2 separate regions of the Homo sapiens genome follow, and region 1 is linked to region 2. The links come from fine-mapping of genetic effects on gene expression. A gene starts in region 2. The other region holds a variant in brackets. All regions are shown on one strand. Distances are between the middles of the regions. Region 1 overlaps DIPK2B (divergent protein kinase domain 2B). Region 2 holds the start of DIPK2B (divergent protein kinase domain 2B).

Evidence for each region. PIP is the estimated chance that this variant, and not a neighbour inherited with it, causes the effect. A credible set is the group of variants that fine-mapping cannot tell apart.
Region 1: its variant is the best candidate, but not a certain one, in a credible set for the expression of DIPK2B in gastroesophageal junction (GTEx, PIP 0.88).

What each region holds. Positions count from the first base shown.
Region 1 is chrX:45,155,091-45,160,467 of GRCh38, reverse strand. DIPK2B (divergent protein kinase domain 2B) reads left to right here. Exons shown (of 5, transcript NM_176819.4): 3 at 2,580-2,753. Among named protein-coding and RNA genes, the nearest start is that of DIPK2B, 43 kb to the left of the region's middle. The variant T/G (reference allele first, on the strand shown) is at 2,547.
Region 2 is chrX:45,198,092-45,203,468 of GRCh38, reverse strand. It overlaps DIPK2B (divergent protein kinase domain 2B), which reads left to right and starts at 2,593. Exons shown (of 5, transcript NM_176819.4): 1 at 2,593-2,875. The coding sequence starts at 2,643.

The sequences.
Region 1 (5,377 bases), 43 kb after region 2:
GAGGCTGAGGTGGGTGGTTCACCTGAGGTCAGGAGTTCAAAACCAGTCTGGCCAAGATGGTGAAATCCAGTCTCTACTAAAAATATAAAAAAATTAGCCAGGCATGGCAGTGCATGCCTGTAATCCCAGCTACTTGGGAGGCTGAACCAAGAGAATGGCTTGAACCTGGGAGCCGGAGGTTGCAGTGAGCTGATATTGCACCATTACATTCCAGCCTGGGGGACAAGAGTGAAACTTTGTCTCATTAAAAAAAAAAAAAGATCTACCTGAGACTGGGTAATTTATGAAGAAAAGAGGTTTAATTGGCTCACAGTTCTTCAGGTTGTACAGGAAGCATGGCTGGGGAGGCCTCAAGAAACTTACAATCATGGCAGAAGGCGAAGAGGAAGGATGAAAACTCACTCCTTATCACAAGAACAATAAGGGGGAAATCTGCTCCCATGATCCAATCACCTCCCACCAGGCCCCACCTCCAACACTGGGGATTATAATTCCACATGAGATTTGGGCAGGGACACAGATCCAAACCATATCAGGGTCCCACAAAAATGTTTTGATTTCTTTCAAAATCAGAAGAAAAAAGCAAACTTTTAATTCCAAGAAAATGTTTGAATGTATAATTTTAATATATTTGTCTTCATATCAATGCAGTTGTAAAATATAATTTGTAATATTTTTCATGGAGGAAGGGGCCTGTGAAAGCAAGGGTACTAAGGGCCCATGAAAGTTGTAATGTGGCCCTCCTCCTGTTGGCTCCAATAGCTCATTGCAGTCATAGCCCTTCCTGTGCCACATCTTAACTGCTGGGCACCTGATGGTCTCTCCCAGCTGAGAGACACCCCGGAGGGCAGGTCCTGTTTTGTTCCCTTTGTGTCCACAAATACAGTCTGAATACAGTCTGGTGCTAACTGCAGGGTTATATGATGTGATCCTCTCATTCCCAGTAAAGATAAGGGTGCAGGTCCTGCCTGGCTCCCTTATCTTTATTTACCTTTATCTATCCTTACCTACCTCTCACCCGGTGTACTGTCTTGGTTCTAATGCTAGGTATATGTGACTTGGAGCAACTGACTTAATCTCTCTACATCTCAGTATTACCATCTGAAAAGTGGAGCAATAATAAGTTCTTGTGAAGTAAATGAAAGAATACACTACCTATGAAGGGCTTAGAGCAGCTCCTGTTGTGTAGTAAGCACTCAATAATTATTACGTATTATTGTTGTTGTTGCTCTGGTCAATTAGTGTCCTATCTCTCCCAGAGATACCTTCATTTAAGAACTGGCTCTTGGAGAAGAGAAAAAATTACTTATCCCCACCCCCGCCCCCTGCTCCCCAATGATCATCTCTAATGGTGGAATTTCAGGCTGTGTAGGAGAAGATGATCAGAAGCAGAGGCCTTCTCATAGCCTCAAATCATTTTCTATGGCCTCCACCTGGGTAGTTTATGGAGAGGGGGGCAGGGCAGGGCCTATTACGGGGAAAAGGCACAGATATTAGAGTCTAACCCATTGGGTTCAAATCCTGAATCCAATTTTTCCAACCATTACCTACACTCTGCATTCCAATTCCTTGGCTGCACAATGAGGTTCATAATAGCACCTACTTCGTGGAGGGCCTGAGAGGATTCAATGAGGTACCAAATGTGAATTAACATCTATTAATTTACTTGATCCTCATGATCTCTTAGTGTCCTCCTCACTTCAAACTGGAACCGGAGGTACAGAGAGACTAAGTAACTTGTCCAAGGTCACACAGTTGGTAGTTGTGGAAGCGGGTAAAATTCTGGCAGGCTGGCCTCAGGGCCTTGTTCTTAACTCTATTTTTTTTTATCAGGAGGTTCATGCTCTTCTTTGTTCAGCATGGGGAAAAAGGTGTAGGGGCTGGCTAGAAAGTCATGAGAGAAAAAAAAAAGCCTAGGTTCGTATCTCCAAGTCTTATCCCAAGAACACAGTGGTGCATATAAAAACGCTCAAGTGTAGCCTCATAGTTGTGATATCCAAGTCAGATGGCAGAAGGAATCGAAAGAGCCCATGGCAGGGAATGAATTCAGCCTGGGATCAGCCTTCTTTCCAAGGGCAGGGTGGGGGTGCAATGGTGGGTAGAGACACAGGTAATGCAAAACTCAGATGGCCAGCTGAGGGGTGGAGAAAGGTGGAGTCCGCCTTCTCTCCCCTTCTTCCTCTCCCCTGCCCTGCCCTCAGCCTGCCCAGTGCCCTCCTGCCGTGCTGCCCAAGAGAGCTCATTCCCTTCTCTGTTCCCGGGGTCTCTGTGGCCCCGCCCCGAGTGTAGCCTGTGGTGGGGGAGGGGGCCTCCCACCCCACCCCCGAAAAGTGCTCTGGCCCCTCTTCCCAGCCACAGGGGTCTGCCCCCTGCTCCGCCTGGGCAGAGCTACCCAACCCCTCCCACCCCACAATCCCCACTCCTGCAGGTCTTTTCCCCACGCCCCACCTGGCCCCCCAGCCTCAAGATCTCCCTCACCCCCAACAGCAGGATCTGCCCATTCCCCCTCCTGCTAACCCCCCACAAGAGCTTAGCGCCCCGCCCCC[T/G]TCTTCTCCCGCCTCTCTCCCACCTGCGCGTAGGGCCTGGCCAGCCCGCTCCTGCGCTGCCCTTCGCAGCGACTCCTGGATCGCGTGGTCAGGCGCTATGCAGAGGTGGCCGACGCCGGCAGCATCTTCATGGACCACTTCACCGACCGTGACAAGCTGCGCCTGCTCTACACGCTGGCTGTCAACTCGCACCCCATCCTCCTACAGGTATGCAGCGACCTGGCAAGCCCTCTAGGTTGGGGGTCAATCTTGGACTCCCAGAAGCCTCCCTGGATTGAGCTCTCTCCCTCCTTTTACTGCATGTCTTGGGCCACTAGCCCGTGTTAGGACCTTTCTGGCATGTGTTGGCTTCTGCAGTGTGAAAGTGCTGTGGCTGCTGTAGAGGAAACAGGTGTGGGAGCCCAGAGCTGGGAGCGGGATGGGGATAGGAGGGAACAGTAGCCACCTTCACTGCCTGAGTGGCCCTGAAGGGCTTTGTGAAGGAGGCCGACTTTGACCTGTGCCTCAAAGATTAGTCAGATGGGGCCGAGCTCAGGAAGTGGAGAAATAGCCAAAGAATGACCCACCCAGAGAGGTACCTTGCATCTATGCTTGGAAGGAGAGGAAAACAAAGGAAGTAACTCCTAAATGTCCATACACAGGGGAATGGTCAAATAAATGAAGATGCATTAAGGGCCTGGAGATACACTGGTCAACAAGACAAGTATGGTGTCTCCTGCCTTCATGCAGCTTCCAGTCCAGTGGTAGAGACAGACACTTATCATGGAAACAAACACCCATAAAATATGTGGAGCCCAATCACTCCGACTGACCCCTGACCTCAAGGGTAAGGACACAGGGGTCACATAAAGGACACAAAGGGAACTAGAAATTGGGAGAGAGGAGCTGGAAAAGGAGGGGGAGTAGAGTGAGAAAGAGGGAAGAAGAGAAAGGTGAGGAGGAGAAGGAGGAAGAAGAGGACTAAGAAAAGGAAGAGGAAGGAAGGCGGGAGAGGAGGAGAGGGAAAGGAAGGAGGAGAAGAGAAGGAATAGGAGGGGGAAAAGGTGCAGGTAGAGGAGGAAGAAGCCACAGCAAAGACAGTTAATAAACACCGGCCAAAGGCATGATGATTGAATACATAATAACAGCTCTCATTCACTGAGCACCTGCTATGTGCCAGGCATTTGGCTGAAGGTTTGACATTATCTCATTTAATGCTCACAGCCACCCCCTGAGAATATTATTATTGTCCCCTTTTCCAGATGAGATTCAGTGGAGTTCTGAGATGTGAAGTGACTTGGCCCAAGTCACTTTTAGCCAACGTCAGCAATAGAACCCAAATGCAGAGCCATCTGCCTGCCCTCAAAGGCCACACTCTTCCCACTAAAACCTGCCTGGCGACATTGGCCTTTGAAATACTAGAAGAGGAAAAGGAATTGCGGGTTGTCCTGCACTCTCACAGATCTTTTCTCCCAGAAAAGACCTTGGCTACTTTTAGGCCTGGCTCTTGAGAGGCGTGGGATGAGAGCATGGGGCTGGGACTCAGCCCTGGGCTCTGCCCAGGAAGGGCAAGTCATGGAACCCGGGAATGGCTGTGTGGCCGCACCTGTAGACAACGACAGTAGGCCCAGGACTTCCCTCCGCGGTACACAGTAAGAAAGGTCCCCTCTGGGCCGGGTGCTGTGGCTCACACCTGTAATCCCAACACTTTGGGAGGCTGAGGTGGGCGGGTCACCTGAGGTCAGGAGTTCGAGACCAGCCTGGCCAACATGATGAAGCCCAGTCTCTACTAAAAAATACAAAAAAAAAATAGCCAGGCACAGTGGGATGCACCTGCAATCTCAGCTACTCAGGAGGCTGAGGCAGGAGAATCGCTTGAACCCGGGAGGTGGAGGTTGCAGTGAGCCAAGATCACACCACTGCACTCCAGCCTGGGCAAGAGAGCAAGACTCTGTCTAAAAAAAAAAAAAAAAAAAAAAAAGAGGTCCCCTTTAGGCAGGGGAAACTCAAATGGGCACGGGTTCTTCACAATGCAGTATGTGCGTTAAAATGGGCAGAGGACTGCAAAAAACCATCAGAGATGGGGATGACTTTATTTTTTAAAGAAGGAAAACAAGCAATAAAGTGCTGATATAGCCATTCTAGATATAGCTGCTTTAAGAAATAGTCAAGAAAAGGTTAGCCAGGATTCCTCCCCACTTTTCATCTACAAATCCACAGGTTTGGACCTCTTACAAGGAGGCAGAGGAGACAGGTCGGGGCTTCATGCTTCCCTAGGCCAGTTTTAGGCTGTCTGGAAGGTTCCAGTTAGTTGGGGAACATCTGTACGATGTATATAGCTACCCCAGCCAGACAGATTCACCCACGGCTGGCAGAAGAGGGGCTTAAGGCCAGTACAGTAGTTCCCAAAACTTCAGTCACCCACAGACCACCCTTATGATTTTTGCCCTGTCCGAGAACAAGGTACCTGTACTGTTTTATTTTTATATAAATATATATATATATATATATTTTTTTTTTGAGACAGAGTCACGCTCTGTCGCCCAGGCTGGAATGCAGTGGCACGATCTCGGCTCACTGCAGCCTCCACCACCTGGGTTCAAGTGATTCTCCTGCCTCAGCCTCCAGAGTAGCTGGGATTACAGACATGCGCCATCACTCCTGGCTGATCTTTGCACTTTTAGTAGAGACAAGGCTATGCCATGTTGGCCAGGCTGGCTTCAAACTGCTGTCCTCAAGTGATCCACCTGCGTCGGCCTCCCAAAGTGCTGGGATTACAGACATGTGCCATCACTCCTGGCCGATCTTTGCACTTTTAGTAGAGACAAGGTTATGCCATGTTGGCCAGGCTG
Region 2 (5,377 bases):
GACTTTTTGATATTTTTTACAAACTTCCCAAAATAAGCTTCTAAATTAAGTCTTTTTGACCTAGAACTAACTTTGGGACATTCCAGAGGACCCCTGTAATGTCTGAAAAGATCTGTGCATAATTTTTGATAGTAGATTGTAGCCATATTTGTTGTTTTTGAGTTTTATTGTCTATTTGTAGACTGGACTGAATTCTGAATTCATCTTTATTCCTCCAATCCAATTTTTTCCCATTTTTCAGACTTGAAATCACTCAGAACAAGATGTGCTCTGTTCCTGAAACCCTGCCAGGCAGTTATAGACAACTTGATGTGACTTCTGAGGACAACCCTTATGCCTGATATGTGGACCACTCAGGAAGATCATTGAAACCCTCAGTACCATAACCAGAGACATTCAAACTGCAAACCAGAAAAATATGTTTCAAGCTCAAATCTAGCAATCTTGTTAACTAAATTTCCTCTGGACTCAGACTGAATTTATAGTTTGCTCTAGTCATTGACCTTTGGTTTTCTTTTGTTTCTCTAGAAATGTTAGTTGAGTTGGTTTGTGAGGACCTTGGCTAAGGAACATACTGCAGTCTTTCAGTATTATCCTCCTGGTAGTCATCATAATCTCCCTGGTGAACTACATTCACTTGAGGGTCTTAAATGTGTGTTCACAGTCATCAACGGTATGCCAGATGATCTCACTGTAATTAGAGCAACAAAAATGAGATGAACAACAAAAGGAATCTTTCCTCAATGAGCTTGATGTTGTGACTTATGAGTTTCACACTGAGACAAGGACAACTTAGCCATGATGGTCACAGAGAGTGGAGCTTATGCCCAAGTTTTAGTCAATATCTCTTAAATGAGAGGCTGATCAAAAAGGATGAATTATGTTTTAAAATTCTAATTGGAAGGCCATTAGACTGAGGTGGCTCTGGCACTTTAAATTCCTGTGTGAACAAACCAAAGCCTAATGTAAATAGTAAATTTAAACTAGAAATTGTACCAATCAAAAAAATCACCAATTAATCTCTAACTAGGGACTTTCCACTCTAACCAATAAAAATTGTTTTCTTTGTCCTGCTTCTGCAAACACTATAAAAGTTTCCTTTCTTGCCCCTCCCAGCAGAATGTTTGCAGTCTGATACTGCCCTGATTCATGAATCGCTGAATATTCAAATAAACTCTTTAAAATTTAAATGTGCTTAAGTTTTTCTTTTATCACACCTGACACCAAAAGCATGATTCAAAAAGAAAAAATTAACAAATTGGACTTCAAAATCAAAACTTTCACTCTGCAGAAGACTCTGTTAAAAGAATAAAAGACAAGTTAGCCCTGGGGAGAAAATATTTGCAAGCCACATATCCAACAGAGGACTCGGATCTAGAATATATAAACAAGCGTCAAAACTCACCAATAAAAAGCAAACATGACCAGACATTTTACTGAGGAAGCTATACAAATGCTAATAAGCACGTGCTTCATCATCAGAAAATTGCCTTTACCTGCTCTTCCCACCAATCTTTAGCAAAACTTGTCAATTGTCCAGAGGCAATCCCCACTCCCTCTTACCTCCCTTTTCCTCACCCCCAGCCCCATCTTCCTATGCACTTTCTCATATTTTCAAACCGTGCCCCGCTCCCCACCTCCACCCTCTCACAGAATGTGAGGCAGCCTGACTTCCCTGATTTGGTTCTCAGAGGTTCTCTCTACTCCCAAATTAGCACTTCCATCTACTCCATGCTGCGGACCTTATCTTGGTATCCTGAGGAAGGCAATCCTGGGGCAGTTAAATCCTACCAAATCCGGCCAAGCCACCCCGAGAAGTGAAGCAAGTTGGTAAAGGAAGAGAAGCTTTCAGGTCTGTGGGAGAGGGATAGACACAGCTGTGTGCTGTCAGAGGGCTCTTTCTGGTGCTCCCCTCATCATGCCACAGAGGCCACCGGGTTCTTTCTGGTCTCTTGTTCTCAGACCAGCAAGAGAAGATGGACTAACCTGAGGTTTTCTCTTCCCTAAGCAGCAAAAAGCTTTCAAATCAGTGCTAAATGTGCCAGTTAATGGCAAGCAAGCTAACCTCTAGTTATTTCACAGGCAAATATGGTAAAAGTGGGGGAAGGAGGGCTGATTAAGGGGCAGGACAAATGACCTAGCACAGAGGGGTCAAAAATTGGGGTGCACGTGTAATCCATAGGGACAGATAAACCTGGAATTAAAACAGTGGAGGGTGGAGGCTTTCAGGATCCTTTGAAACTCCCAGGTGGAACGCAGGTTGGACACACATCCTGCATGGACCTTTCCTGCCCTGCCGGGATATCCTGTGTTTGTCAAAAGGACCACACAGGGAAGCCCTGACAATTGTCCTTCCCGAAATCTGCCAGCGAGCCCCTCCCCAGCCTGAAGCAGCCACCCCCGGCAAAGGAAGAGTAACTCTGGAAACAGCGTTATCAGCATCCTCCACTGACTTCCTCACCTCCTCCCCAGCCTCATTAGCCCCAAGCTCCTCAGCATCCTCAAAGAGAAACCTGGGAGGCTGGGATGGGGTCAGCACCCAGAAGCCAGCCCCCTCTGACAGCTTCCTCTTTGGCCAAGCCCTGCCTCTGTACAGCCTCGAGTGGACAGCCAGAGGCTGCAGCTGGAGCCCAGAGCCCAAGATGGAGCCCCAGCTGGGGCCTGAGGCTGCCGCCCTCCGCCCTGGCTGGCTGGCCCTGCTGCTGTGGGTCTCAGCCCTGAGCTGTTCTTTCTCCTTGCCAGCTTCTTCCCTTTCTTCTCTGGTGCCCCAAGTCAGAACCAGCTACAATTTTGGAAGGACTTTCCTCGGTCTTGATAAATGCAATGCCTGCATCGGGACATCTATTTGCAAGAAGTTCTTTAAAGAAGAAATAAGGTCAGAATATCAATCAAATAACTCTGAATCACAAAATTCTGTTCCCTTCTTGTGAAGATGTCCAGGAATTTGTTGAAAAGGAATCAGGATGTAATATGGGTGGGAGCTGAAACAAATCCATTTAATCAGAGTGGTAATGGTCTGAAGTTGGGGTGGGTAAGAGGGCAAGATGTGAAGCCAAATTCCAGCCCTAAATGCTAAATCCAACATTTCCTTTTGAACTGAAAGCTTGAAGTTTTCTTTCCTATGAATGGAGTAGCCTGGGACTGTTGAGTTTATCAAGTTCATTTCTCACAGTGGGCGGGAAATAAAATTTATAGAAAGCCTACAATGTGACACCTATTTTAAATCATTGTGAGAGTTAATGGTGTTCCCCCATTATTGAGGTGGTAAGCTGAGACATAGCCAGATAAAGTGACTTCAGTGGGGGGAAATGGGTAACTCTGTGAGATGATGGGACCCATTTCACTATATATATGTATCTTACAACATCGTGTTGTATACTTTAAATATACACAATAAAATTTATTTTTTAAAAAAGATTAAGTAACTTGCACAAGGTCACCACCGAATAAGTAGCAGCTGTGGAATTCAAACCAGGACGGTTTGCTCCAAAGTTTCTGAGCCAGCTTTCTGTTGTGAGAGATTGCCTTGATCAGAGGAAAACTGGAGCTTAGTAAATTGCAATGCACATGGCTCTCAGCAAAGAATGGCATCACACTTGGAATTTAAGCCTATCAACACACAGTCCATGAGCCTTTACCACAGCCAAACTCTAGCAGGTACTGGGGTGACAGCAACTATAACTCTGGTCATTGCCTTCCTGGAGGTCAGGACAAGGGGGTCATGTTATAAATAATAATAATAAGGCTTTGTCTGATGCAGGGCAGTGTAAAGGACCTCCAGGAGCTCCATTAATTCCAAATGGGAACTGGGGAAGGGCTTCCCCAGGAGAAGGTATTCTGAGCAAAGCCTTTTAAAGGATGAGCTGAAAAGTAACGGGAAGTGAAGGGCTTAAGGTGGAAGTAACATCTTAAGCAAAGGTGTGGGAAGAAGTGAGAGGTGCTTAGCTAGAGCATGGGGTGTATGTGGAGGCATGACAGAGGAGGAGGTTGAAGGGATATATGGGGCAGGGGGTCTTTAATTGCCATGCCAAGGAATTGGGGCCTTAATCTTGTGGACCAGTGGTTTCCAGTCTTTTTAGTACCAAAGACCCTTTGTCATATATATGCCCTTTCTCCTCCATCTTCCTCAAAGGACCTAACTTACGCTTTTAAGATTTGGTGACCAAACAAAAGGCATTAATTAACAATGATTTTATTTGCAATCTGTATTAATCAAAGACATCTTTGCTTACTCAACCAAATTACTAAATAGAAATAATAGATAGAAATACCAATCAAAAATGTTAAACTTCTTTTGTGAGGTATTTTATGGAGTTGGTGTGGACTTTTCCTATTAAGCCTTTTTAAAGGCATATTAAGCGTTTTTAAAGGCATTTTTGAAAGACCACTGATTGAGGAATCTCTACTGCAGGCCATGCTGAGAGTGTTAGGCTGGGGAGGGGCAACATGAGACCTGTGATTTGGGAAGAGCTCGTGCAAAGTGGACAGGACGGACTGGTGGTGTTGGCAGGGGCTGTGAGACCAGTTGCCATAGTCCAGGACACAAGTCACTGGGAACAAAGTAGAACAGGAAGGATACAGGTCAGTTCAGCTATAGAGTCATCCTGTTGACCAACACTATGCGAGAGGAAATAAATATGCAGATGTTGGATGTGAACTCAAGGTTTTCCGCCTAGGAAAAGAGATAAAGAGGACCAAGAACACAGGTGAAGCAATGCTGATTCCTTGGAGAGAGGCAATAAGAAGGCAGACATATTTTTTAAAAGGAGGGAGAGAAATTTAAGGATTCAACTGAGGAAGAGCTCTAGGATGACTGCATATTCACCAAAGGGCAATAAATGAAGTTTTTCTTACTAGCATTTGGCAGATGCTAGCCAAAATCAGAAAGCATTTCCCTAAATAGGTTTGCATTCCGTTAGAGTCCAGGATATTACTTCATCTCCCTTAGAATTCATGTTCCATGTGCCCGTGAAAGGGAAGTGTGCAGATACAAGCAGGAAAACACCAGGCAGGGCAGATTGGGGTTTATAGCTCTGCACATTGAGAATGGTCATCCTCAGCACAAAGAGGCAGAGAGAGGCAGTCAGTGGGTCTGGGGAGGTGGTCCTGTTTAGAGTCCTTTTCTCTACAATATAAATACCTTTTTTCTTATTATCAAAGTCGTGCCTGTTTATTTTAGTATTTTCAGGAAAGGTTGATTAAAGAAAGCACAAAATAAAATCACATATAATTCTTCCACCAAGAGATCACCCCTTAGTCAACATTTTGTTGCATTTCCTTGCCACCCTTTTTCTAAGTGTGAATTAAGAAATTTTTTAACAAAAATGTGAACATGCTGTGTATACTTTTTGGAAACTACTATTTAACAGTATATCAG